7 linked regions of the Homo sapiens genome follow. The protein of the gene in region 6 interacts with the protein of the main gene of each other region in a pairwise test. Each region holds a gene or a part of one and is shown on either strand. Other genes may lie near its edges.

The links.
Region 1: the proteins of DESI1 (region 6) and UBQLNL interact in binary tests that used the Homo sapiens proteins (3 or more experiments, as listed by UniProt).
Region 2: the proteins of DESI1 (region 6) and EVI2B interact in binary tests that used the Homo sapiens proteins (3 or more experiments, as listed by UniProt).
Region 3: the proteins of DESI1 (region 6) and SMIM21 interact in binary tests that used the Homo sapiens proteins (3 or more experiments, as listed by UniProt).
Region 4: the proteins of DESI1 (region 6) and GOLM1 interact in binary tests that used the Homo sapiens proteins (3 or more experiments, as listed by UniProt).
Region 5: the proteins of DESI1 (region 6) and KLRF1 interact in a two-hybrid assay, tested with the Homo sapiens proteins (one large-scale study listed by BioGRID).
Region 7: the proteins of DESI1 (region 6) and FGF7 interact in a two-hybrid assay, tested with the Homo sapiens proteins (one large-scale study listed by BioGRID and IntAct).

The regions. Positions count from the first base shown.
Region 1 is NC_000011.10:5,513,900-5,517,914, reverse strand, and holds UBQLNL (ubiquilin-like protein), read left to right. Parts: upstream 1-1,215; 5' UTR 1,216-1,473; coding exon 1,474-2,901; 3' UTR 2,902-3,522; downstream 3,523-4,015.
Region 2 is NC_000017.11:31,304,055-31,307,554, forward strand, and holds part of EVI2B (protein EVI2B precursor), read right to left. Parts: intron 1,577-3,500; 5' UTR 1,556-1,576; coding exon 209-1,555; 3' UTR 1-208. UniProt on the Homo sapiens protein: Required for granulocyte differentiation and functionality of hematopoietic progenitor cells through the control of cell cycle progression and survival of hematopoietic progenitor cells.
Region 3 is NC_000018.10:75,424,904-75,429,026, forward strand, and holds the start of SMIM21 (small integral membrane protein 21), read right to left. Parts: upstream 2,801-4,123; 5' UTR 2,661-2,800; coding exon 2,532-2,660; intron 1,759-2,531; exon of another isoform or gene 1-1,758.
Region 4 is NC_000009.12:86,037,059-86,040,558, reverse strand, and holds part of GOLM1 (Golgi membrane protein 1), read left to right. Parts: intron 1-3,500.
Region 5 is NC_000012.12:9,833,981-9,837,480, forward strand, and holds part of KLRF1 (killer cell lectin-like receptor subfamily F member 1), read left to right. Parts: intron 1-3,500. UniProt on the Homo sapiens protein: Functions as an activating receptor involved in immunosurveillance upon binding to various ligands displayed at the surface of myeloid cells.
Region 6 is NC_000022.11:41,614,544-41,618,043, forward strand, and holds part of DESI1 (desumoylating isopeptidase 1), read right to left. Parts: intron 1-3,500. UniProt on the Homo sapiens protein: Protease which deconjugates SUMO1, SUMO2 and SUMO3 from some substrate proteins. Has isopeptidase but not SUMO-processing activity. Desumoylates ZBTB46. Collaborates with UBQLN4 in the export of ubiquitinated proteins from the nucleus to the cytoplasm.
Region 7 is NC_000015.10:49,421,908-49,426,041, forward strand, and holds the start of FGF7 (fibroblast growth factor 7 precursor), read left to right. Parts: upstream 1-1,334; 5' UTR 1,335-1,533; intron 1,534-2,124; 5' UTR 2,125-2,390; coding exon 2,391-2,676; intron 2,677-4,134. UniProt on the Homo sapiens protein: Plays an important role in the regulation of embryonic development, cell proliferation and cell differentiation. Required for normal branching morphogenesis. Growth factor active on keratinocytes.

The sequences.
Region 1 (4,015 bases), on a different chromosome or scaffold from region 6:
ATAGGCCTGAGTCTTGCTGTAGTAAGTTAGCAACTGGCCTTATAGCATGATGAGGATCTGACATGGATGGTGCTGGGGGTCTAGATATTCTCAATAAAGAATCATTGGTTTGATAGCAGAAGGTCTCCTGGCCAACGGCCTATCATCCCTTTGCTTGTCTTCAACACACTGGGAACATATGGGCTCGAGCTTTTTGCTTGTTCCTTAGCTATCTGTGTGGTGCTCCTCCCTCTCCAGGCAGGTGGATGGAATATATAAAATCCAGACCCTGAAGGCTTCCTAGTAACACAGAATATGCATACAATTTCATATATACATTCGATAAGACATGTACACTCTCACTCATATAAATAATTATTTCCATCTGCATCTAAATAAAAACCAAACACAATTCTCCAAATTTACATGGGACCAAGAATCCAGCTTTTTAGTTGCCTGTATTTGTCCCCTTAAGAATTTTACTACTAACCACCTCCTCTCCCACCTCTTGATTTACAGACGACATTCCCCCTTAATGCTTTGACATAAAGGTGGGCACACAAGAGTGGGTTAGGACATTGAAACAAATCATTCTAAAACTTCTGTTATATTGACATGTAGAAGAGACCAAGTGATATGTGAATAAAAGGCATATTATAAAAAAGAGCTAATTCACATTTAGTTTGGCATGTGCCTATGAAGAGCCTTCCTGGTTAGCCCTACTCCTGCTTCCTAGGACAGAGGAAAATTTTCCCCACCACATGGGAGCACAATTAAATATAGAATCCCAAAATCTAGACTCTATATAAGACCCAAATTTCCAGATCATTAAAAAAATTAATGCGCTCCTTCCTATGGGAGAGACTGCATTCTTATAGGAATGTGGCTTTATCTATGGCTTCAGTAGACCCAACTTTTCATACAAGTCTAACATCCCTATAAGGAACATACACACAGTATCACACGGAAACACACATCCCACATTTAAAAATATGGTTTTTATTTACTTTTTTGTTTTCTTACTAGTTCCATCCAGAGAACTTTGTCCCTGTTTTCTGGAAAATTATTTTATTTTATTGTAGAGCCCTGGACCCCTAAATATGTCCTCCTTCCCCAGCTGGCCCAGGGTGACTGCGAGGATAGAGTTGACATCACAATATCCCTTTTCTGAGGATTCATGCCCCTGGTGGGTGGGGTAGGAGGAGGGGTAGCCCTAGGAGAAGTCATCACCACTTTGTCCACCATGGGTGAATTATGAATCAGTAGCTATGCCAGGCCTCAGCTGGGCCACATCTGGAGAACTGGGGTGAGGGCACAACATCACAAAATATCTGGCCCCAGTCTGGTCACTCATCCCTTTTAGGGCAACAAGGAAACTATCCTGTGGCCTGAGAGCACAATACCTGAGACAAAGGCCAGCAGAAACATTTGTCTGCCCTCACCCTTTCTGCCCCAGCTTCCACCTGCTCCCCATCTGCCCACCCACTAAAGCCCATGTGGCATGCCATCTCTCGAACATCCAGGATGTCCCAGAGTGGATGTCCATCAGGTCTGCTGGCAGACAAAAATATCTCTTCAAGTGCCACTCGAGTGATAGTGAAGACTGCAGGCAACCAGAAAGACTTTATGGTAGCTGATGACATCTCGGTAAGGCAGTTCAAGGAGATGCTATTGGCTCACTTCCAATGCCAGATGGACCAACTAGTGCTGGTCTTCATGGGTTGCCTTCTCAAAGACCATGACACACTGAGCCAGAGGGGCATCATGGATGGCCACACCATCTACTTGGTCATCAAGTCCAAGCAGGGCTCCAGATCTCTAGCCCATTCCTTCCGGGACCTGCCAACGAATGATCCCTGCCACCGGGACAGAAACACCAAAGGAAACAGCAGCAGAGTGCACCAACCAACTGGTATGAATCAAGCTCCAGTGGAACTGGCCCACTTTGTGGGGTCTGATGCACCCAAAGTGCATACCCAAAACTTGGAAGTGAGCCACCCAGAGTGCAAAGCACAGATGCTGGAGAATCCTAGCATCCAGCGGCTTCTGTCCAACATGGAGTTCATGTGGCAGTTCATTTCAGAACATCTAGACACGCAACAATTGATGCAGCAGAACCCAGAAGTTTCCCGCCTTCTTCTTGATAATTCTGAGATCCTATTGCAGACTCTGGAGCTGGCCAGGAACCTTGCTATGATCCAAGAGATAATGCAGATCCAACAACCTTCACAAAACCTTGAGTATCCACTGAACCCACAGCCATATCTGGGCTTAGAGACAATGCCAGGTGGGAATAATGCCCTGGGTCAGAACTATGCTGATATCAATGATCAAATGCTGAACAGCATGCAAGATCCTTTTGGAGGAAACCCTTTCACAGCTCTCCTGGCAGGACAAGTGCTAGAACAAGTCCAGTCTTCACCCCCACCTCCACCACCATCACAGGAACAACAAGACCAGCTCACACAGCATCCTGCAACCCGAGTCATCTATAATAGCTCTGGTGGTTTCTCTTCAAACACCTCAGCCAATGACACCCTTAACAAGGTCAACCACACTTCCAAAGCCAACACTGCTATGATTTCCACCAAGGGCCAGAGCCATATCTGTGCCACTCGGCAGCCAGCTTGGATACCAGCCTTACCTAGCATAGAGCTTACCCAGCAGCTTCAAGAAGAATACAAGGATGCCACTGTTTCTCTAAGTAGCTCCAGACAGACATTAAAGGGTGATCTCCAGCTGTCAGATGAGCAGAGCAGCTCCCAGATCACAGGAGGCATGATGCAGTTGCTTATGAACAACCCCTACCTGGCAGCTCAGATTATGTTGTTCACAAGTATGCCCCAGCTGAGTGAACAGTGGAGGCAGCAGCTGCCCACATTCCTGCAGCAGACACAGATTTCTGATCTGCTTAGTGCTTAGGCAACCCTAAAGCATTCCAAGCAATATTGCAGATTGAGCAGGCCCTCCAGCTGCTGGCCACAGAGGCTCCTGTTCTTCTGCCTTGGGTTGCACCCTACCTATGGGGCCTGGGTTGGCTTCCTGCCCCCAGCTGCAGCTATCCTGACACAGTGCCCTGTTCCTGGAATGTTTCAGATACAGCTGAGCCCAAGGGACCTGAGTGCTGCCACAAGCCTGGAACAGTCCTGCAGAGGCTACAATCCCCGGATGGGGACCCTTCCCACCCTCTGCAAGCTCCTGAGATTTGTTTTAGCAAACAGATGGATTCTCTCCAGGCCATGGGATTTGGGAACCACCATGCCAATCTACAGGCACTCATTGCTACTGAAGGGGACACCAATGCTGCTATCCGCAAGCTCAAGAGATCCCAGAGATTCTAACCACCATGCCTACTTGTTTGCTTGCTACCTGCCTGCTGACCCACCTGACCATCTCATTTGCCTTTTGCACCTTTCCTGATGCTTCCAGCCAGGAGAAGTCCTGGAATAAGAGTTATCAACCAATGTGTCTTGTACTGAATAATAGATCATTGGTCGTGGCTGAAACATCTGTCAATAAAATGGCTACACTCACTTGCTGCGATCTGAGGTTTGGCTTTACTTCTTTTGCAAAAAAAAAAAGAAAAAACTAGCTGTGTGAGATTTTTGTCTCACCTACTATATGTACATTAACACACAAACCACATGCATATATTAATATAGAGATAAAAATAATGTTTTTATCTCTAAAACATGAGCATTTTGAGCATGGTATATGAAACTTGAGCATGGTATATGAAACTGATTATTTTGAGCATGTCACCTTGGACAGGTGTGTGTATGTACACAAGCTCACATAGTAAAAAATTCACATATACAGGCATATAGAGTCCACATATGAGTACACACAGCCATGTGCAAACACAGATGCAAATACCTAGAGACACATAAATAGACCCATATGTAGGGAAAACAATCATAACATGCTCAAACAGAAAGGGAAACATTTTACATAGATAGGCCCAGATATTTAGTCATAAAGACTGCCTGAATTTCTCAAACCCAAATTGTTCAAGTTTGAAAGTGGAACAGGAATA
Region 2 (3,500 bases), on a different chromosome or scaffold from region 6:
TAGGTACTATAATTAGTAAATAGATTACTGTTAAATAACTTTTTTTAAAAAAAAGTTTCATCTATGCACATAGGCTCTGAGCAGATTTCAGATAGTTCCTGAATAAAAATCAAAATTGACTATCAGTTGCCATTTTATATATGTTAACATATAAAGAAAAAAGAGTCATTTGAGGATGGAAGATCAGCTAAAAAGCAAGTTGTAATATTTATAACAGTTCTGCAGGTGGAGGTGGCAGGGATTCATTAAGATCTTGATCAGAGTTGGGAGGAATAGAGAACTCCTGACACTGGATCTCAAGGTTGGAATCTTCTTGGTTTTTCATAAAATCTACTGGTGGCAGGGGCAAGTTAAGTGAGTCAAGCGGTGGAAATGATTGTATTATCTCAGATTTATGATCTCCACAGTCTTGATTGAGACAGTCCAGAGATGGAGGGAGACTAGTAGAATCATTTGGAAGAGGAGATACAATTGTCATTGTGGGTTTGTCAGATTGGTTACTTTCCTGTCCTTCCAAATCCAGAAGGGGAGGTGGTGGAGGCAGATCTGCATCATCTGAAGAAGAAACAGCAGTTCCAACTGTTGAACCATCAGCACTATCTTCTGATGTACCATTTACTTGATCTTTTATTTTCTCTGTTTTGGGGTTGTTGGAGTCTTCAATGTTTTCACTTGATTCAAACAACTTAATTTCTAAGTCATCTGCTAAAAGTGTGCTTTTGCTTGGTTTCCAGGGTGTAAGTGAAATGATTGATGTACGTTTTGTGGATATTTCATTTTCTCTGATGTTATCCATACAAATGTCAGGGGTTTCTCCATCAGCAAATGGAGATCTACCTGCCCAATTTTGATCATTTAAAACTGGTTTCCTTAAGCATTTCCAAAGTACAATGATGATTATAGCTACCAACATAGAAGTCAGAAGTACACCAATTAGTATGGCAGCTATTGAATTATAATTGTTTTTTTGTGGGGTTTGTTTGTTACTGGTAGTATCTAAGATAAATCCTGGTGTACTCCTAGGTGAATTTTTGACAGTTGATGTTGGTTGTGTGGATGGATTATGAACAGTTATTTGTTTTCTAGAAGGGATCTGGACAGATGATGATTGTTGAGTAAAAGTATAGACAAATGACTTTGGTGGTTGTGTGGTAGAAGTACGGGCAGATGGTAGTTGTCTGGCAGAGGTGAACACGGCTTGCTGGGAGGAGGTGTTGGCTATTGGTGTTGGTTGTTTGGTGTTGTAGGCAAGTGGTTGTCCAGCAGAAGTATGTGCTTCTGGTTTTTCAGAAGAGGTATAGACAGCTGGTGTTGGTTGTCCAGCAGTGACTTTGGCAGGTGATATTGATTGTCCAGAAAAAGTGTCGCTGAATTGTGTTGGTTGACCCAAAGGATTCCCTGTTGTGTTTTGAGAATTAGCCAATACCTGTGACATTGATGATGTGAATAAGGTAGGCTGTGACTGCTTCTCTGTTGTAATTGTCTCTGTCTTTGAAAAAAATGTATTGTTCAGGTGTCCACAAAACAAAATTAAGATGAAATATTTGGGATCCATTTCAGAATATTTCCTCGTTATCTATAGCGGGTTTATAATGAAAGAGAAAGACAGTTAGGCGTCATTGGTGTCTAGTTAAAAATTTGACTTTTCATTATGATTCCTGGCATAAAGTAGGTAGACATTATTCCTAATTAGTAGTAGTTGATTAGTAGTTATTATTCCTAATTTAGACTTGATACACTGTAGGTTTGGTGTAACAACTCTTGGATATACTCTAACCCATCATACAGCATTTGGACCTCATAAGCAGTGATCTCTCTTCTTTTATTAATACAAGTTCTGTACTTGGCTCTGCTGCCCCTCTAGCTTCATTATATTTCAGTACTTCACTTAGTCATACTTCTCAAAACGCATAGGCTCTATATGCTGGATCCATGTGTTCTCTACCTTTTTTCACCATTTTCTACTAGAAATATATTGATTCTCCTGCCTTGAAGAACACCAGTGATCATCTGTTACCTAATCTAATTGTTCTTTATTTCTTCTCTCCCCTCCCCTCCTTGACCACATTAGACACTACTGTTCCTTCACTAATATTCAAGTAGCTTTTTGTAATCAGTCTTCCTTTCATGTTACTCTCACTAGCTCTTTTTCTTCTGCCTCCTAAATATGGTTAATTGATATTCTGTCCTCACCCTTACCTACTTTTCTTTGTTCCTGATTCTGTAAGATTTTAGTTCTCAGCTTTATGCCACAATTCCTAAACCTGTACCTCCAGCCTACATCTTCTTTGTCCTAATTCTATTTGTGTGACTTCTTGGTGGATTTTTCCATATTTTATATATATAGATAGATAGACATAGATATAGATATAAATATCTCCCACTATCAGCAAATTCAACATATTTAAAATGGAGTTCATCTTTACCCTCACAACTGACAACTGACTCTTCTCCCAACTTCTCTGTATCTGTTAATGGTACCACTAAGTTTCTTAGGCACAGAGTCTATTAGTAATCTTTGAAGCATCCTTAGTGTCTCTGTAGCGTGGTAGCCTTATGTTAATATTGCATATTTTTAAAGAATTTCATTCAACTCAGAGTCTTAGGCTTAAAATCCTAGAGTGATCTCTGAATCTGGTGGAGTAAATTCAATCCAGTTGGTCAAGTAGTCCTGCTGCTGCTTTCATTCATCTATTGGTAAATGCCACATTTGTGTGGAGCTCTGTTCTAGGTTTAGGAGATTAAAAAAAAAAAAAAAAGATAGTCACTGCCTTTAAGTGTTTCAGATTCTAGTGATAGAAGCAAACAGTAAAGGCCAGGCGTAGTGGCTCATTCCTGTAATCCCAGCACTTTGGGAAGCCAAGATGGGAGGATCGTTTGAGGCCAGGAGTTCAAGAACAGCATGGACCACATAGTAAGATCCCATCTCTAAATAAAAAGAAGAAAGAAAAAAAGCTAAAAAATAATTACAATAATTTTTTTTTTTTCAAGACAGTCTTACTCTGTCACCCAGGCTGGAGTGTAGTGGCACAATCTGGGCTCACTGCAAATTCCGCTTCCCAGGTTCAACTGATTCTCCTCTCTCAGCCTCCAAGTAGCTGGGATTACAGGTACACATCACCACGCCTGGCCTATTTTTGTATTTTTAGCACAGACGGGGTTTCACCGTGTTGGCCAGGCTGCTCGAGAACTGACCTCAGGTGATCTGCCTGCCTTGGCCTCCCAAAGTGCTGGGATTACAGGTGTGAGCCACCACGCCTGGCCCAATTACAATAATTTGATAAGCTTTCTCATAAAAGTATGCAGGAGATGTACAGAGAAGTTAACCTAGCCTGGAAAGGCTTCAGTGAAGTAAAGCTTGAACTGAATTTTAAAAGTCTATAAAAACTAATTAAGTTTCCAGCCAGGGAGAGCAACAATGTGGGCACAGGAAAATAAGGCACATATGAAAGTTTGGCAGATAGGGCTTTTTCTGGGATGTGGTAGATGCTAAAACTTGG
Region 3 (4,123 bases), on a different chromosome or scaffold from region 6:
GCTTTTAAAGCTTCTGCTCAGATGTGCTGCACATCACACTCCTCACGCTGTTGTGGGCAAAGCAAGCCACAGGCCAAGCCTGGTAGTGGATCAGCTCCCTCAAGTCTCATGGCGATGGGCGAGTGTATCTGCTGTTACTGAGAAAAGAGAGGGGTAAATAGTTGTGACAGATGATACAAATGTGCACACCTCAGCTGACACAACTCCAGTGGAACAGGCTGTCTGTTGTACTGGAACCAATGTGAGCTTTTGGATTTTCGTCGTCTGTGCATGAGAGAGATTCCACTGGACACCAAGCTTATCCACAGCCTCCATCCAGAGATATCTGGATTTAATGAACACCCAGTCACTGCCTGCAAACAGGAGATACTGAGTTTCCAGTACATAAGAACTCCTAGATGCATGAATACCTAAGAAGAAATTAAATGTGAAGATCTGATCAGAAACATAGTGGAACCAGTGAACACTGGCCAAAAGAAAAAAAAAGTCCCATTCCACTGCCTGGACAATAGCAGGAAGGAATTCCTTATAGTTTCATGCCCTGTATTGGCTTTAGAGTCATTAATGAACAGTATCTATGTCGTATGATCCATGAAGTAGTGAGAATTGTTCACACCTGAAACCATTTTCCTACTGGCTACAGAAACGTTACCATCATATGATTTATTATTAAGTGTTGTTTTCCTTGTCAACATTTTGTGGTTTAACAGCCCACCTAAGTGTGAATCAGTTATCAACTGGCTTTCTTATTGAAAAGACAGACGAGGCTGCATGAAAATGCTTAGCACATGGGTAGGAAGCAGTGGATGAAAATAGCAGAAGTGGGACCCAGAAGATGAACTCTTTTACATTTGATTATTCAGATTATATGTAAGTTCCCATCCTGCTGAAATCTCTTCAGCAGCAAGTTAACCTCCAACCTAAGAAAGATGGAAGAAATCAAGAGTTGAAGATGGAGGGGACAGGGACAGTCTCTGTATCTGTGTGCTCCCTGAGGTGGGGGCCCCTGCCTCTCCCATCTTTGCACTCCTCATGCCTACTGTGTACCTGGTGCAGACCAGCTGCCCTGAAATGTTTGAGGTGCTGTGTTACCATTGCCTCTTTTGATTGCCCACCGAGTGCCTCCTGAGTCATGCACCCCATCACAGCCCTCACGCAAGGCCTGGAGACAAACCCAGCACACACCGGCCTAGTATTAATTCATAACCATCATCATGTACCTAAGATTCTACCTACCTGGATGTTGATTGATGAAATTTATAAAGTATTAGAAGGACTTCAAATCGACTTACAACTATCACATATGAAATGCACAAAACCAGCTTTTAAAGCCTTCTATAATTTGTTTAAGACTGAAGAACTTTAAGACCATTACTTTTATTTATTTATTTGTTTGTTTGTTTGTTTGTTTGTTTGTTTTTTGAGGGACAGAGTCTCGCTCTGTCACCCAGCCTGGAGTGCAGTGGCACAATCTCGGCTCACTGCAAGCTCTGCCTCCCGGGTTCACACCATTCTCCTGCCTCAGCCTCCCAAGTAGCTGGGACTACAAGTGCCCGCCACCACGACTGGCTAATTTTTTGTATTTCTAGTAGAGATGGGGTTTCACTGTGTTAGCCAGGATAGTATCAATCTCCTGACCTTGTGATCTCCTCGCCTCGGCCTCCCAAAGTGCTGAGATTACAGGCATGAGCCACTGCACCCGGCCCTAGACCATTACTTTTAAAATGTAAAAAAAAAAAAAAAAAAAAAAAAAAAAAAAAAAAAAAAATGGAAAAAGGAAAAGGAAATAAAGAAGCAGCAGTGGGGATCAAGACAGAGGAAGGAGATGCTACCTGCCTGCTCCCATCCATCTCCTCTTCACAGTCAGAAACACTAAGAGGAACCCTGTGCTACAGGAGAAGACATTCCAGAAATTTTGTCTTAGGACTTTAACCTTTCCGATATATGACTGGGTCATAAACTTCCTTTTCAGAAGCTATTGATCACCCCATCACCTCTGCAAATGGGGTGTCTATAAATGCCATCTGTTGCCTGCACATTGGCTACTGGTTCATGAATGGTTAAATTTGTTGCAACTTTTGCTTCTGTCCTGTAATGAAGGAAAAGAAACTTTCTTCTAGGAGTGCAGTATCAAATTTGTCTGGGTAGGTTGAGTTTGTAGGTGTTGCAGGTGCACCTAGGCTTAAAGCATTTGGAGGTATCCTTGCATCTGTGTTAAGAGGCTCTCTCTGTAGGGGAGAGATCATTGACTCATTGGCCTGTATACTGATGTAATGTCAAGGGGAGGGCCCAGTACCTTTTCTGAAAGGGGCAGCTCTTCCTCAGATTGGGAATTGGAATTGGGAGGTTGTCTTGGCCAGAACTGAGAAAGAAAGAGCTCTGGATTGACGTCTCATCTTAAACTTCGTAGAATCTGGATTTGAGAGACAGAGCACTCACAGGAGATTGGGGCAAAAGAGTGCTTTGTAGGACCATACCTGTGCAGTGATACGTCTCTCTCATAACCCAAAGTTAAAGACCCATAAACTCACTGTGGTAAGTGCTTTCTTCTGCAGCAAATTCCCCTTGAATATCCGTCCCATTCCTGCAGAGTCTTGTTTAAATGTTCCCAGCTGTGCTATAGGGAATCGGGGAGGAGCTGTGGACACATACTGGTCCATGTGGGGGCTGCGGCGGTGACCAGTGAGAGGTCTCCTTGATGACAGCGACTCTGAGGACACAGAGCTGGTGCTATAAGACCTGGTAACTAAGTTCCCAAGGAGCTTTTCTCTTCTTTGCCAACCTTGAAGATCTGGGTATTATTTTATGAAGCTGGATGGAATCTTCCCACATGTAGAGTTCTCAGGTCCAGGTATTATTTTATGAAGTCGGATGGAATCTTCCCGCACATGGAGTTCTGAGGTTTCTCAGGTTGCTCTCTGGCTCAGTGATGCTGTGTGAGAATGTTCAACCATATCTCCACAGCACAAGCTTTGGATCTGATGTCAAGAAGCTTTTGTGAATATTAAAAATGAACCGCATCTCCCTGAATCAAAATAAATACTACTATATGCACTTCAATGGAAATAAAATCTGGGATTCTTTTTGGGCCCTAAGCAAAATGTAGAAATTCATTTTCCCATCAGACTTTTCAGTAACTTTCTTTTAACCTAATGAGACACTCCACAGGAGACTAACATTTCTTTCGCTGAATTCCAAGTGTAGGTTTCCTGGGTTGTCCATTTAATTGTTAAAGTGAGAGAGATTCTGCTGGAAGACAAGCACCATGGAACAGCAGGAGGAAAGCTGAATGGAGGTTACTTGGGAGCTACCCCAGGAAGAAGCGCTGTGCAGACCATCATCGCAGGGTGGAGAGTAGCCATGAGACGTGTGTGGTGGCCTCTGGATGCTGCTGTGCTGCCTCATGGGAATTTTCACAGATCTTCCACTGTTTGTAAATGGTGCCCAATGAGCGGAAAATTAAGTGGTACTTAACACACACACGTTCACCAAATACTTGCAGCGTTATCCCCATAGTGTGGATGGCTTTTGACAAGGTGCCTGATGAAGAGAGATGCACATAGTTGTGAGTCCCAGCCTACAGAAGCTCATGATGGGTGCTCCACAGTGTTGGTGTTGAGTAAAAATGCCCAGGACAGTATGCACTGTGCTTGACGCACAGTATGACTAAGAAAATACCTGTTATTATGTGAACAGTGACCATATGCACAGCATACAAATCAGTAGCCCAGTGCTGTTCTGATGGTCTTGTCCTGAGTGGTTTTTCCCATCTAGTTGGAGACAAGACTCATTCTCTAGAAAGAAGAGCAAAAAATGGTGGGTCCCACCAAGGCCATGGACAAGGGAAAGGCAGAAACGTGCAGAGGGAGCAGAGACAGAGGAGGCTTGAGACCTGTGTGGAGGGACAGGAAGGGAGCTCGGAAGCCCGTTTTGTAGCAGATCCCAAATTGTGAAAGTTGATAGTTGTGGAGCACACATATGCAGAGTAACATCTAGAATTCTCAGAGTTGGTGATTTAAAGAAAAGAGAAAAAAAAAACACTGACTAAAAATTAATCTTCAATTTCCCACAGGCCTTAAACTTCCAGCTGCTAAAAGACAGTGGGGTGTAGGGGGTGGAAAGA
Region 4 (3,500 bases), on a different chromosome or scaffold from region 6:
CCTCCAGCCCCGCTTCACAAGCTCAGGGCTTTACGGGAATTATCGTATTTAAAGCTCGCAGCCAGCCTGGGAGAGAGTTGCTGTTTTCCTGACTTGAGGACCCCAGCCCCATGGGAGGGGTTAAGTTCTGTGGCCAGTGTCACACCACCTGGTCAGTGGTAGAGCCCATCAAGACCTCAGGTCTGGCCGACTCCATGTCTCGTGCTGTCATTCCACCTCCTGTGCAGAGCACAGCCCACGAAGCTGCTGCTTGAAGCCTTCTGGGTGATCTTTGAGTAGTTTTTTAAAAATATAGCAGCTTTATTAAGATATAATTTGCATTCCCTATGATTCACCCATAGAAAATTTACAATTCATGGGTTCTGAGTATATTCACAAAGTTATGCAGCCATCACCACAGTCAATTTCAGAACATTTTTATTGGCACAAAAGAAACCGTGTATCCCTTAGTTCTCTCTTCAGTCCCCACAGCCCTAGACAGCCAACTGCTAATGTACTTTGTGTCTCTTGATTTGCCTAATCTGGACAATTTCCTGTCAATAGAATCATATATGTGTGGCCTTTTGTGTCTGACTTTTTTTTTTTTTTTTTGAGAGGGCATCTCGCTCTCTCACCCAGGCCAGAGTGCAGTGGCGCGATCTCAGCTCACTGCAGCCTCTGCCTCCCAGGTTCAAGCGATTCTCCTGCCTCAGCCTCCCGAGTAGCTGGGATTACAGGCACCCACCACCACACCTGGCTAATTTTTGTATTTTTAGTAGAGACGGGGTTTCATCATGTTGGCCAGGCTGGTCTTGAACGGCTGACCTCAAGTGATCCACCCACCTCGGCCTCCCAAAGTGCTGGGATTACAGGCGTGAGCCACCACGCCCGGACTGTCTGGTATCTTTGACTGAGTATGAATACCTCAGGGCTCATCGGGGTTGCAGCATGTGTCTGTACTGCATTCCCTTTAATGGCTGATTAATCCATCCTGTGGATAGACCACATGTGGATTATTCATCATCAGTTGATGGGCATTTGGAGTGTTTCCATGTTTTGGCTATTATGAATAATGCCGTATGAACATGAAGCTTTTGTGTGGTCATATGTTTTCATTTCTCTTGGTTAATACCTAGGAGTGGAACTGCTGGGTTATATGGTAATCTATATTTAACCTATTGAGGAACTCCCAGACTTCTTCCAAAGTGGCCATACCATTTTCGACTGCCACCAGTAGTTTATGAGGGCTCCAGTTTCTTCACATCCTTGCCAACTCTTGATACTACCTTTTTCATGATACCCTTCCTAGCAGGTGTGGAGTGGCAGCTCGTTGTTTGGGTTTGCATTTCCCTAATAACTGTGATATCCCTGATGATATTCAGCATCTTTTCACATGTTTCATTGGCCATTTGTATATCTTCTTTGAAGAAATGTCTATTTGGGTCCTTTGCTCATTTTTTAATTGAGTTATTTTTATTATTGAATTGTAAGAGTTTTTAAAATCTATTTTATTAAAGATATATGATAATGGATATATGATTTGCAAGTTTTTTTTCCCAATTCTGTGGGGTTTTTCACTTTCTTGCTGGTGTTTAGTTGAAGCACAGAAGTTCTTAATTTTGACAAAATCCCCATTTTATTTATTTTTTCTTTTGTTGTGTGTTCTTGGTATTATATCTAGTAACACTTTGCCTGACCCAAGATCTTGAAGATTTACTGTTACATTTTCTTCTCAGAGTTTTATCGTTCTTAGTTCTTACGTTTAAGCCTGTGATTCATTTTCAGTTAATTTAATTATTGCATATGGTGTGAGGTAGAGCTCCCACTTCATTCTTGTGTGTGTGCGGTTATCAAGTTGTCTCAGTAATCACTTGTTGAAAGAAAGACTGCTTTTCCCCCACTGAATTGTCTTGGCACCTTTGTCAGAAATCAGTGTGCTGTAAGTATGAGGGTTTTTAGTGAGCCTGAGTGTTTTAGTGAGCCTGAGTCCCTTGGCTGTGAATGTCCCCTATGCTTCTCTTCAGTACCCACTCCCTACCCCAGTGGGACAAAGTGGCTGGAATGGGCTGGAGTTGAGTAGCTTCCTTCTCCCACGTGGAAGTCTAGAGCTTACTGGAGTTGGGTGTTTCATTCCCCCAGGTCAGTTAGGCTCAGATAATATGCCCGCAGGAGCTCTGGGTAATGCGCTCCTCGTGAGGGCCGGCCTGGTTAAGGAGAATAGAGCACTCTGGCCTGTTTCAGAATGGTTCCTTTCCCCGCCACACTGCTGGAAGCACAAGCCGATTTTTCTCTGATGTTCACTGAGAGCCTTTCTCTAATATTCACTGAGAGCCTGGTTGAGCTCCTAGGGGTAAAACTCATAAGTATGGGAGTCCCTTATGACTGGGGCAGGTTTTTTCTTTTTCTTTTTTTTTTTTTTCTTTTGGTGTTGGAGTTTTGCTTTTATCGCCCAGGCTGGAGTGCAATGGCGCAATCTTGGCTCACCACAACCTCTGCCTCCCGGGTTGAAGCAATTCTCCTGCCTCAGCCTCCCGAGTAGCTGGGATTACAGGCATGCGCTACCACACCTGGCTAATTTTGTATTTTTTAGTATATCGGGGTTTCTCCATGTTGGTCAAGCTGGTCTTGAACTCCCGACCTCAGGTGATCAGCCCGTCTCAGCCTCCCAAAGTACTGGCATTACAGGCATTAGCCACCACGCCTGGCTGGGGCAGGTTTTTAACTCTCAGACTCATCCACACTGAGCCTCAAACAGTTCATAAATGACAGGGTCAGGCTCTCCCACCCTGACACCAGTTCCCGTGGTGATGTCTGCCCAAGCCTGTCCTGGTGAGCCGGGACTCTCTGTATTGGGCTGTCTGTCTCCAGGCTTAAGGACAGTGATTTACACTCTGTCCTCACCTCTCCTATGGATCCAAGAAGAGCTGATAACTTTTCAGTCTGTTTAGTTTTTTACTTGTTAGGACTAAGTGGTGACTTTTAAGCTTCTCACGTGAGGAACAGAAAACTGGAAGTCTTCTAATACAGATGCTTGAAGGTGTACATTTCTTCTAAGCACTGCTGGAGCTGCTTCCCATAAGTTTTGGTATGCTGTGTTTTTGTTTTGTGGCAAAGCATTTTCTTTTTTTTTTTTTTTTTTTTGAGAGACAGTCTCGCTCTGTCGCCCCAGGCTGGAATGCAATGGCATGATCTTGGCTCACTGCAACCTCCACCTCCCAGGTTCAAGCGATTTTCCTGCCTCAGCTGGAAATCACCTCCTTGCCTCACCTCCCAAGTAGCTGGAATCACAGGTGCCTGCCACCACACCTGGCTAATTTTTGTATTTTTAGTAGAGATGGGGTTTCACCATGTTGGCAAGGCTGGTCTCAAACTTCTGACCTCTGGTGATCTGCCTGCCTCGGCCTCCCAAAGTGCTGGGATTACAGGTGTGCGCCACCGCGCCTGGCTGTCCAAGCATTTTCTAATTTGTGTTGTGGTTTATTGTTGGACTCACTGGTTATTTAGGAGTGTGTTGTTTAATT
Region 5 (3,500 bases), on a different chromosome or scaffold from region 6:
AGAGTCAGCGAAGGGGAGATAGGGGTGAGGCCGTTTTATAGGATTTGGGTAGGTAAAGGAAAATTACAGTCGAAGAGGGTAATTCTCTGGCAGGCAGGAGTGGGGGTCACAAGGTGCTCAGTGGGGGAGCTTTTTGAGCCACGATGAGCCAGGAGAAGGACTTTCACAAGGTAATGCCATCAGTTAAGGCAAGGACTGGCCATTTTCACTTCTTTTATGGTGGAATGTCATCAGTTAAGACAGGAACAAGCCATTTTCACTTCTTTTGTGATTCTTCAGTTACTTCAGGCCATCTGGGCGTATATACGTTCAGGTCACAGGGGATGCGATGGCTTAGCTTGGGCTCAGAGGCCTGACAGTCCTGCCTTCTTACAGTAATAAGAAAAATAACATAAAATAGTATTGAAGTGTTGGGGCAGCGAAAAAAAAATTTGGGTGCGGGGGGTAGCATGGAGAGATAATGGGCGATGTTTCTCAGGGCTTCTTCGAGCGGGATTAGGTGTGGCGTGGGAACCTAGAGTGGGAGAGGTCAACTTGCAGGAGGATTTTGTGGTAAGGGGTGATATTGTGGGGTTGTTGGAAGGAGCATTTGTTGTATAGAATGATTGGTGATGGCCTGGATACGGTTTTGGATGAATTGAGAAACTAAACGGCAGATACAAGGTCCGAATAAAAGAAGGAGAAAAATAGGTATTAAAGGACTAAGAATTGGGAGGACCCAGTACATCCAATTAGAGAGTGTCCAAGGGCGTTCAGCATAATTACTTGCTTGGTTGGCAAGTTTTTGGACCCTATCCTTGAGTTTTCTTATGTTGTCATACACCAGGCCAGATTGATTTAGGTAAAAACAACACTCTTCATTTAAGAATATACAGAGTCCTCCTTTTTCAGCAGTGAGTAAGTCAAGGCCTCGGTGGTTTTGGAGGATAACTGCAGCTAAAGAGTCAACTTGGGCCTGGAGGACTGATAAAGTTTGTGATATGTCTGTGATGCTAGCAGAGAAGACACTAGAGAGGCTATGGAAGGTCGTGACAGAGGTTGAAATGCCTCCTATTCCAGTACCGAGAGCAATAGTGGAGGCAGAAAGTCCTAAACCAACAAGCAAGGGAATTAGTGGAATAACTCTTTTTTGTCGTGTTGGTGTCATGAGGGGAACAGGGAGCTCTTCGGTCCTATTTGCAAATTGAATTTTGGGAGTAAGGAAAACTAGTGTGCATGTACCTGTCCAATTAGCAGGTAGACACATGGAGGTAGAGGATCCACAGAGGAAGAAGAGACCTTGTGCGAGGCAAAACTGGAGATGCAAAGTAAAAAGATGAGGAGTGCTGAAAGGGGTGTCTTGTACCCAGACTCCTGGGGATCCAGCTAGGGCGGCAGCCACCAGAGGTTGTAATGGGGACTGGTGGGGTAACTGCGTAGAGGGGGAGGTTCGATTTTCATGGTATATGAGAAAATGTTGAGTGTCTATGAGCTACCTTTCACTGTTATTTTCGGGGCTGGGTATAAGTAAACAAGAAGAGGGCCTGGGAGGAGGGTCTGATGAGCAAGGGGAAGGTAGCCGAGGATGGAGTGAAATACAGGGTAAGTGTCTTCCTAAGCAATAATTACTGCTAATATTTTTAAGTTTGCCAGTATTGATAGAGGGCTTTTCTGTAATACGGAGCTGGAAGGCTCCAATTGTTTCGGTGACATGCATAGCTGGACTTTGGAGATGAAGAGTAAAGGAACATGGAGAAGGTGAAGGGTTACTAGGGGAATTCCAGTGGGTCTTTGCCGAGAGATACATAAAGGAGTGGCCACAGGAATAGGAATAGTAGTTTGTGTTGTGAGAGGTCCAAATATGGGGGGAGTAGAGTTGATATAAGGAGAAAGGTTTTTTAAGTAAGTGTGGAGGAGGGCGGCAGCTTGCTGATATGAAATGTCTGGGGAGGTCTTGCTGGACCTGTCTAGAAAGTAAATGAGTTCTTCAGGAGGGTAAAGGTGAGGGCTGTTAAAGGAAGTTCAGAGGTATAGGGAGACAGATGTTGCCCAGTCTACATGTAAGGTGGGGGCAGCTGTGTAGGCGCTGGAAGAAAGGGAAATGCAAAGCCAGCAGTTGTTCAATAAGGAGAGATTAGAAATGGCTAGGAGAGAATAAGTAACGTTGGTAGTGTGGTGGAGATAGCTGGGGAGAGGTAGAGGGTGACATAAGAATGGGAATGATCCCTTCATTCTATTAGGTCTGTTTGTCCTTACCCTACTTTTTGCAACAGGGCTTTACGAAGTTACCCCCACTACTTGGACCGAGCCCCAAAAACTAGTCATCCCTACTATCTTCTGTCTAGTCATACTCCTATTCACCATTCTCAACTACTTATAAATGCCCTACTCTTGTTTACACTGCCGGTTTACACTGTTTTTCCAAGCCATCACAGCTGATATCTCTTGGTGCTATCCCCAAACCGCCAGTCTTAACTCCCTCTTAGAGTGGATAGGTGATCTTTGCTGGCAGGGGACCCTCCAATACTTCCACCCTGATGAAGTTCTATTCTTTACTTTTAAGTTTAACTTTTTGATACTTAACTGATCATTTTGACATTTGTTTTATTGTATGAGATGATATATTATGACTTTCCAGATAAATGTATAATTATTATAAAAGGATTTTTTTCTAATCTACTAGTTCGTATTTCCTCCTTTATCATACGTGAAAATTTTATATATTTTATGTTCTACTTATTGACACTGTCTTCATTTGGCTTATCTGTCTGTTTTACAGGTATATTTCCCAAACTAATAGATATTGTAGCTTTACCTCATATTTTATTGTCTCCCTATCTGTAATGTCTGTCACTGTGTTGGGTATCATTGCAATGACACCTTAGAAAAATTAAGGCGGCTTTGGTAGGTAAACATGGAATCATGTACATGGCAGTAAACATTAATTAAAGTAGGTATAAATACTGTATATTGAGCTACAATATATTTATTTCCTATTCCTTTTCTTAGCTGAGGTACAATTCAAAATTTGAACCTTTAAAAGTAAACAATTTCATGATGTTTAGAACCTTCAAACGTTGTGAACTACCATGTTTATCTAGTTGAAAAACTTTTCCCAAAAATAAATCCCTTACATACCCAACAAGCAAATCACTCTCCATTCTCTCTCCCCTTAGCCTCTGACAACTACAAATCTTCTTTCGGTCTATATGGATTTACCTATTCTGGATTTTCATGGAATAGAATCACACAATATTTGGCCTTGGGCTTCTTTCACTTAGCATAATGTTTTTAAAGTTCATCCACATTTTATTCCTTTTTATGGGTGAATAATAGTCCATTGTGCATGTATATCTATAAATATAGATACATATATACTTATATGTATCTCTATATCTATAAATACATATATATTTATATGTATCTCTATATCTATAAATATTTATAGTTTTATGTATATCTGTAAATATAGATATGCACAATGTTTGTGTGTGCAGAGCTTAAAGGTCAGCCAAAGGTGA
Region 6 (3,500 bases):
AAGTAGCTGGGATTATAGGTGTGAGCTACTGTGCCCGGCCTACATCCTTTTTTTTTTTTGAGATGGAGTCTCACTCTATCACCCAGGCTGAAGTGCAGTGGCATGATCTCGGCTCACTGCAACCTCTGCCCTCCGAGTTCAAGCGATTCTCCTGCCTCAGCTTCCCGAGTAGCTGGGATTACAGGCATGCGCCACCGTGCCCAGTTAATTTTTGTATTTTTAGTAGAGATGGGGTTTCACTATCTTGGCCAGGCTGGTCTTAAACTCCTGACCTCAGGTGATCCACCCGCCTTGGCCTCCCAGAGTGCTGGGATTACAGGCATAAGCCACCTCACCCCACCTTGTTTTCTTCTTCTTTTTTTTTTTTTTAACAAAAAAGTTCCTTTTCACCTGTTTTCCACATGCATATCTGCAGAAGATTTCATTTCAAGGAAGAGTTTCACAGCTAAAGAGCATTTGAAAACCACTGGTCAGGCCACATGCAGTGGCTCACGCCTGTAATCCCAGCACTTTTGGAGGCTGAGGCGGGCGGATCACGAGGTCAGGAGATCAAGTCCATCCTGGCTAACATGGTGAAACCCCGTCTCTTCTAAAAAAAAATACAGGCCGGGCGCGGTGGCTCAAGCCTGTAATCCCAGCACTTCGGGAGGCCGAGGCGGGAGGATCACGAGGTCAGGAGATCGAGACCATCCCGGCTAACACGGTGAAACCCCGTCTCTACTAAAAATTAAAAAAAAAAAAAAAAAAAAAAAATTAGCCAGGCACGGTGGCGGGCGCCTGTAATCCCAGCTACTCAGCAGGCTGAGGCAGGAGAATGGCATGAACCTGGGAGGCACGCGCCACTGCACTCCAGCCTGGGCACACAACAAGACTCTGTCTCAAAAAAAAAAAGAAAATTTAAAAAAGCAGAATCACGCAGGGCCTTGTAAGCCATATTCCTTTCCATTTTGCCTTAAAGAAATTGAATGATTATTAAATTAATTCATTAGATGAGTATAAAACAGTTCACACAGTGAACAAAAATCAAAAACAAAGCACAATAGATGGCATTAAAACAGAAAAAACCTCTCTCAGATTTGAATAAATTTTACTTAATCTTCAAGCTTAAGTTCAAGTCTCAATCATTTCTATAATCAATACTTACTGAACACCTGCTCCAACAGGCCACTGGGGACATATAGGAAGGGGACAGAGTCCTTGCCCTCCAGGAGCTCCAGGCTCTTGCCAAAGCCTCTCTGACATGCTCAGCTCACCATGGCCTCTCTTATTTCAAAGCCTAACATAGTTCATGCACCACTCACTCACTTTGGCACCTAATCATAATCTGTTTTATATTGTTATCAAATGTTATATGTGTACATTCATTATTTAAAGGAAAATAATATTTTAAGAAAAACTCCTGGGCTGGGCATGGTGACTCATGCCTTACTTTGGGAGGGGGGTTTGTTCAGCATTTTGGGAAGCTAAGGTGGGTGGATCGCCTGAGATCAGGAGTTTGAGACCAGCCTGACCAACATGGTGGAACCCAGTCTCTATTAAAAATAGAAAAATTAGCTGGACATGGTGGCACATGTCTGTAATCCCAGCTCCTTGGGAGGCTGAGGCAGGAGAACTGCCTGAACCCAGGAGGCGGAGGTTGCAGTGAGCCGAGATCGTGTCATTACACTCCAGCCTGGGCAACAAGAGTGAAACTCTGCCTCAAAAAAAGAAAAATTCCTGGAGGACAGAGTTCACGTCATATCTTTTATTTCATTACTATTTGTACTACAAAATGAAGTAAAGAATTGAGTATAGTGTAAAATCTCTAATATTCATTAGAATTCATTCTGCCAAGCAATTTATATATTCTATGTCTCCAAATCTTTAAGTCTGAAAACAGTTTTGAAATGGGCTTGTAAAGAAAAATAAACGTGATGCATGTACACGAAACTTCTGATCAGAAAATAATAAACAAATATGAAGTACTTCTTACCACAATTAAAACACACACACACACACACACACACACACACACACACACACACTTCTGCATGTACTGTGGCACAAAAAGAGGTCAAGAAACTTAAAGAGCAGCCAAAATTATTAAGAGGAGGAACTGAAGGACACTTATAATAGCTAATTATTTTAGGCAATTGGTGACTATGAAAAAAGGTGCAATGAGGCTATCTGCTCAATTAGAATGCTGAAGATAATTTTGGGACCATTTTTCATAGTGAATGAAAAGCTATAGAACAGTAATGCCTTCACTTGAGGCAATTCCAGGAGGCTGAAAACAGGACAGGCTAAAACTACGGAATTTACATTGCTTCAGGAAAGGGGAATTACCTTGGGCTTTATCTAGTCTAATCCTGAACTGCGACAGAGCTAGATGAGGTCTCCCATTGGAGAACTGACATAACTGAAGCCTGAGAGGGTACTGCAGATGAGATCACATGGATTTAATTTGGGAAAATGGAGACTAAGAGGCATGATCATAAATCTAGATTGTAAGTGGCACATACACATTGAACCCAGCTTTTTTTCTCATCCAAACTTGAAACATTTGGCAAAGGATGCCTTTACAAACTTCAGGAAGGCATCTACTTTACTTCAATTTTAAAGGAACGTATTACACAGAGGTGGTATCTCAAAATGACAGAGAACGCGAGCTCTGGAAGTCAGACTGCCTGTGTTCATAACCCAGCTCTACCACCTAGTAGCTCTGGGACCTGGGGCAAATTCCTTAACACTCTACTTCTCAGGTTCTTCAATCAAGAAAATGGAGGCAATAACAGGACTTATCTCACAAAGTTGTGGTGAGGATTATAATGCACGCAAAGTACTCAGAAAAAAAGGGTCTGACACATGGTAAGCTCTCAATAAATAGTGGCTATTAATATACTTCTAGAATTCATCATAAAAATCAGGAAACAAATTGATTTTTTAAAGGTTCAAATGTATTTAGGAATGGGAAATCAATATATGGCTACTTATAGCACTGGGACATACCCAACTTCAAGATTTGTGTTGTCTGAATGGGATGAATCAGTAAGACCATGCCTATTTTCCTTAAGTGTTCAACTCTAGAAAGTAATGACTACTAGCTTTGCTAATTCTTTCTTCATTAATTTTGCAAAAGGTATAAAAGCAATATGGAAAAAAGAGGTAGAGAAGACAGAAGTAGATTAGCACACAAGGTGATTTCCTCAGATCAGAATCTGATGTGCCCAATGAATGGGTGATGTTCCCATGTTTGGCTGAGGCATTCCAGGACTTTACATCTATATAAAAGGGCGGGGAGTGGGAAGGGGGCAGGTCTATTACTCCATCTTCAGTTACAGCACTTTCCCCTTCACCCACTACACTCCACAAAAGCCTTCTTTCAGTTCCAGTATCAGGCCAGACTCTTTCCTGTCTCAGGGCTTTGGCAGGTTGATCTTTCTCCTACCTGGAACACTGTTACTCCCTTACTACCCTCCTGTGGCTACTTCTTCCTCATCCTAAATTCCCACTTTCAAAGT
Region 7 (4,134 bases), on a different chromosome or scaffold from region 6:
CCCCCTCTGCTTTAATAAATGTGGAACATTCAACATTTGGCATATGAAGAGTAACTGGGTACATCTGAACTATTCTGTGCTCTTCATTCTGTTCCCTAAAGGGACAGATACAAAGAGAAATCACATAAACTATAATCCAGTTGAGTAGATTTAATTTCCTTTTCCTATTTGGTCTACATGCACCACCTGGTGGTAAAGTAGTGCATTTCACATAGAGAGAGAGAGAGAGAGAGAGAGAGTGTGTGTGTGTGTGTGTGCGCGCGCGCGCGCGTGCACGCGTGTGTGTTTTGAGGAGTATATAACATGAAAAAGATAATTTTAATATACTTTCTTAATACTGATTTAGATAGACAACACAATTATTCTACACCAAGAATCTAATACAACACTTGAGCACTACTTCATGTATAACAGAACAGGAAGTAAAGGAGAGAACTCATGCTGGAAAGTAAAATAGCTTTCACTTATTTACCTTAGCAATACATATTATAATTCCATCTCTAAATTAACATTTATTGTTCCAATATTCTTATTGAGGCAAAAATCAAACACTGATAATCAATGTGAAACCATTTCCTCCTTTTTAAAGAATAACAGCTTTTAAAAGTAGGTGCCCTGTTCCTTATATTAGTAGTGAGTATAAGTCACAGATCACAGAATTGTAAAGCACCATAGAGGCATTAGACCAATACACCAATTTTACAAATGTAGCAGCTGAGACTCTGGAACAGCAGGTAACTTGCCCGAAGTCATACTGGTCATTAGTGGTCCAACACAAATAAGAATCTAGATCTTCTCACTTTCAGCCTAGGAATATAATACATAAAAATTGTACTTATATTCATATTCAATGAATTGTCTCTGTATGATGTGATAATATTCAACTTATCTACACAGTGCTTTAAGGCACTCATATGTTAGTTAACACATACCAGTTTTGTTCTAACATTCTGAGCACAAAGAAGTAATTGAAGAAATGCATGTATCATAAAGCTATGGAAAAGATTTTCTAAGTATTAAAAAACCCTATATATATGTTCAAATGAATAATTTTCCAAGTATAATACAACTGCTATATTGCAAAGAAGGTTTAAAAAATTCCCTTTCCCCTTCTAACTGCTTCAGAACCAGAGATCTGTTTCTACAAAGTAGGTACCCACTTGTAGATTTAAGCATAAAACATGTTCATAGCTCCCTCTCATGACCATTGAATACTATACAAGCCTCCTTTTATTCTCGCTGTTGTATTCAACTAACAGCTCACTGGCTAAGTTTTAATTGCTTCCAATGAGGTCAGCAAAGGTATTTATCGAAAAGCCCTGAATAAAAGGCTCACACACACACACAAGCACACACGCGCTCACACACAGAGAGAAAATCCTTCTGCCTGTTGATTTATGGAAACAATTATGATTCTGCTGGAGAACTTTTCAGCTGAGAAATAGTTTGTAGCTACAGTAGAAAGGCTCAAGTTGCACCAGGCAGACAACAGACATGGAATTCTTATATATCCAGCTGTTAGCAACAAAACAAGTAAGTTACTGTTATTTGTCTTTTAAAACAATGCTGAATGTTTTCTAAAAGTTTATCTCTTTTTCTGATTTTAGTACTGAGCAGGAAAGTAAAGTTACAAGATTTTTGAGCCATGTAACTATAGTAATTATGCTGTAGAACATAAAGATAAGGTTGAAGTTCTCCAGAGCAATCCTGACATTTAACTTAAAAAACCTGGGCAGTTCAGGAGAAAATAATTGATTAACCACAAATGTAAAAGCATATAATAAAGAAGTCTAGGGAGAAAGCAGTTACACTTTGTTAGCAGTAATTGTAAAAACTTAATTTAAATCAATAGTTCTGAGTGCAGTATGGTTCTCACAAAATAGCAATTGGAATGAATGGTACAGTCATATTCTGTTTTGTCTCTACTCATGCATAAATTTTATAAATCTACACATAAAGTGGTAAAGATTTTGACATCCTCTGTGAAGGCTGTTTTAAATGTATCTTCAAAGAATAACCTATACTGTATTCTAATGCTACTACTTACCCACTAAAATTTACACATACAATTTTTTATCTTCCTCTCTCCTCCCCTCCCTATTCTTAATCTCTCATTGCAAACAGAAGTCAAATAGCAAACAGCGTCACAGCAACTGAACTTACTACGAACTGTTTTTATGAGGATTTATCAACAGAGTTATTTAAGGAGGAATCCTGTGTTGTTATCAGGAACTAAAAGGATAAGGCTAACAATTTGGAAAGAGCAACTACTCTTTCTTAAATCAATCTACAATTCACAGATAGGAAGAGGTCAATGACCTAGGAGTAACAATCAACTCAAGATTCATTTTCATTATGTTATTCATGAACACCCGGAGCACTACACTATAATGCACAAATGGATACTGACATGGATCCTGCCAACTTTGCTCTACAGATCATGCTTTCACATTATCTGTCTAGTGGGTACTATATCTTTAGCTTGCAATGACATGACTCCAGAGCAAATGGCTACAAATGTGAACTGTTCCAGCCCTGAGCGACACACAAGAAGTTATGATTACATGGAAGGAGGGGATATAAGAGTGAGAAGACTCTTCTGTCGAACACAGTGGTACCTGAGGATCGATAAAAGAGGCAAAGTAAAAGGGACCCAAGAGATGAAGAATAATTACAGTAAGTAATTTTAAGTACTGCTCATGAACCTTAGCAATCTGTTAATGGATCAATTTTCAGGTGATATGTTTTCTCATCTTCCTTTTGCTTCTTGGAAAAAAAATTAAATAAAATGTCACCTAATTTCTCTAAATTGAACTATGTTGAACTATGCCCCTAAAAATATCTCTTTTAACAGGGCAAATCTACTTACATTATAGTTGGACCTGATAATCCAAGCCAATTTGAAAATATATACTCCTTGTCCTGAAAATGCTCATAAGTTAAGCAAAATGTAAATAATATTATTCACACCAAAATGTGACTTAATATTGTCTAAGCAAAACTCATTAAGATATCTAATTTAGAACTTCATAAATTATCACTAAAAGCTATTTATCACTAGTTTAAAGAGTAGGGAAATTATTTTTATTAATTTGATTTTCTTTGAAATAATATTTTCATGATGTAAATTAAAATACTTAATCTGTGCTAAGATATGCATTCCTTTGCAATTGTGTATAATGATAAAATAGAAGGGAATCTGTGGTATCCTTATTCATTTGAGTCATAATGAGCTTGTATTAAGTTGATGACTTATCAACTTAGGCAGAAAAACAGATCTCTCCTAACGTTTTCCTTAACTAAATCTTTTATGTCATAAAAGTTCTGTGCTATCTTAAGAAAAATGTAAAGGTGAGGGGAAAAAAGTGGGCTGGAAGAGATGGTAATTCCATGTTTTTCAATTTAAAGCCTTACATTTTTCCCAAGAATCAGTTATTCTTCTTATGTTAAAATATCAGGGTTGTGTTTTGCATTTAATGGTTATGATGAATAACCAACTTCAATAGTATTAAATGTAATGGAATAAGATACACACCTCAACATGTACATTAAGGATTTAAAATACTTAGTAAAAATAAATTTTGTTTACATTACTAGCACTCAGAAAACATTGTTATTAATATATAATTTCATATTAATTGTTTTAAAGTCATTTGAAAAAGAATGCATGGGGAGACTGGTGTAAACATGTGCAAATCACAGTGCCAGGCTTGCAGCAATTACTCAAACTTTTGTTGCCTGTTTACTGAATGACTTTTAGGGTTCTGAACTAATCAACCAATCAATGGGAATTTCAGAGAATTATGTTTCCAATATGAAAATGAGAAGACCTTCTTTTTAACCATAATTGATATAGAATGTTAAGGCCATTTTAATGACTGGACAGTTATGGTTTTATTATTATTATTTATTATTATTACTGAGATTAATAAAGGTATCATGTTAGTTCTAGAAGATCATTCTTATTATACTAAAGTTTATCTAAGGAAATGACTATTTGGAGAAAATTTTTTTGATATCTACTTCTATATAAGCAACAGAATTTGGCTTATAATTAATTTATTTAAAAGTTGCTCAGATTTATCATGGATAATATCATGGATATAATAACAATATTATATATTATCATGGATA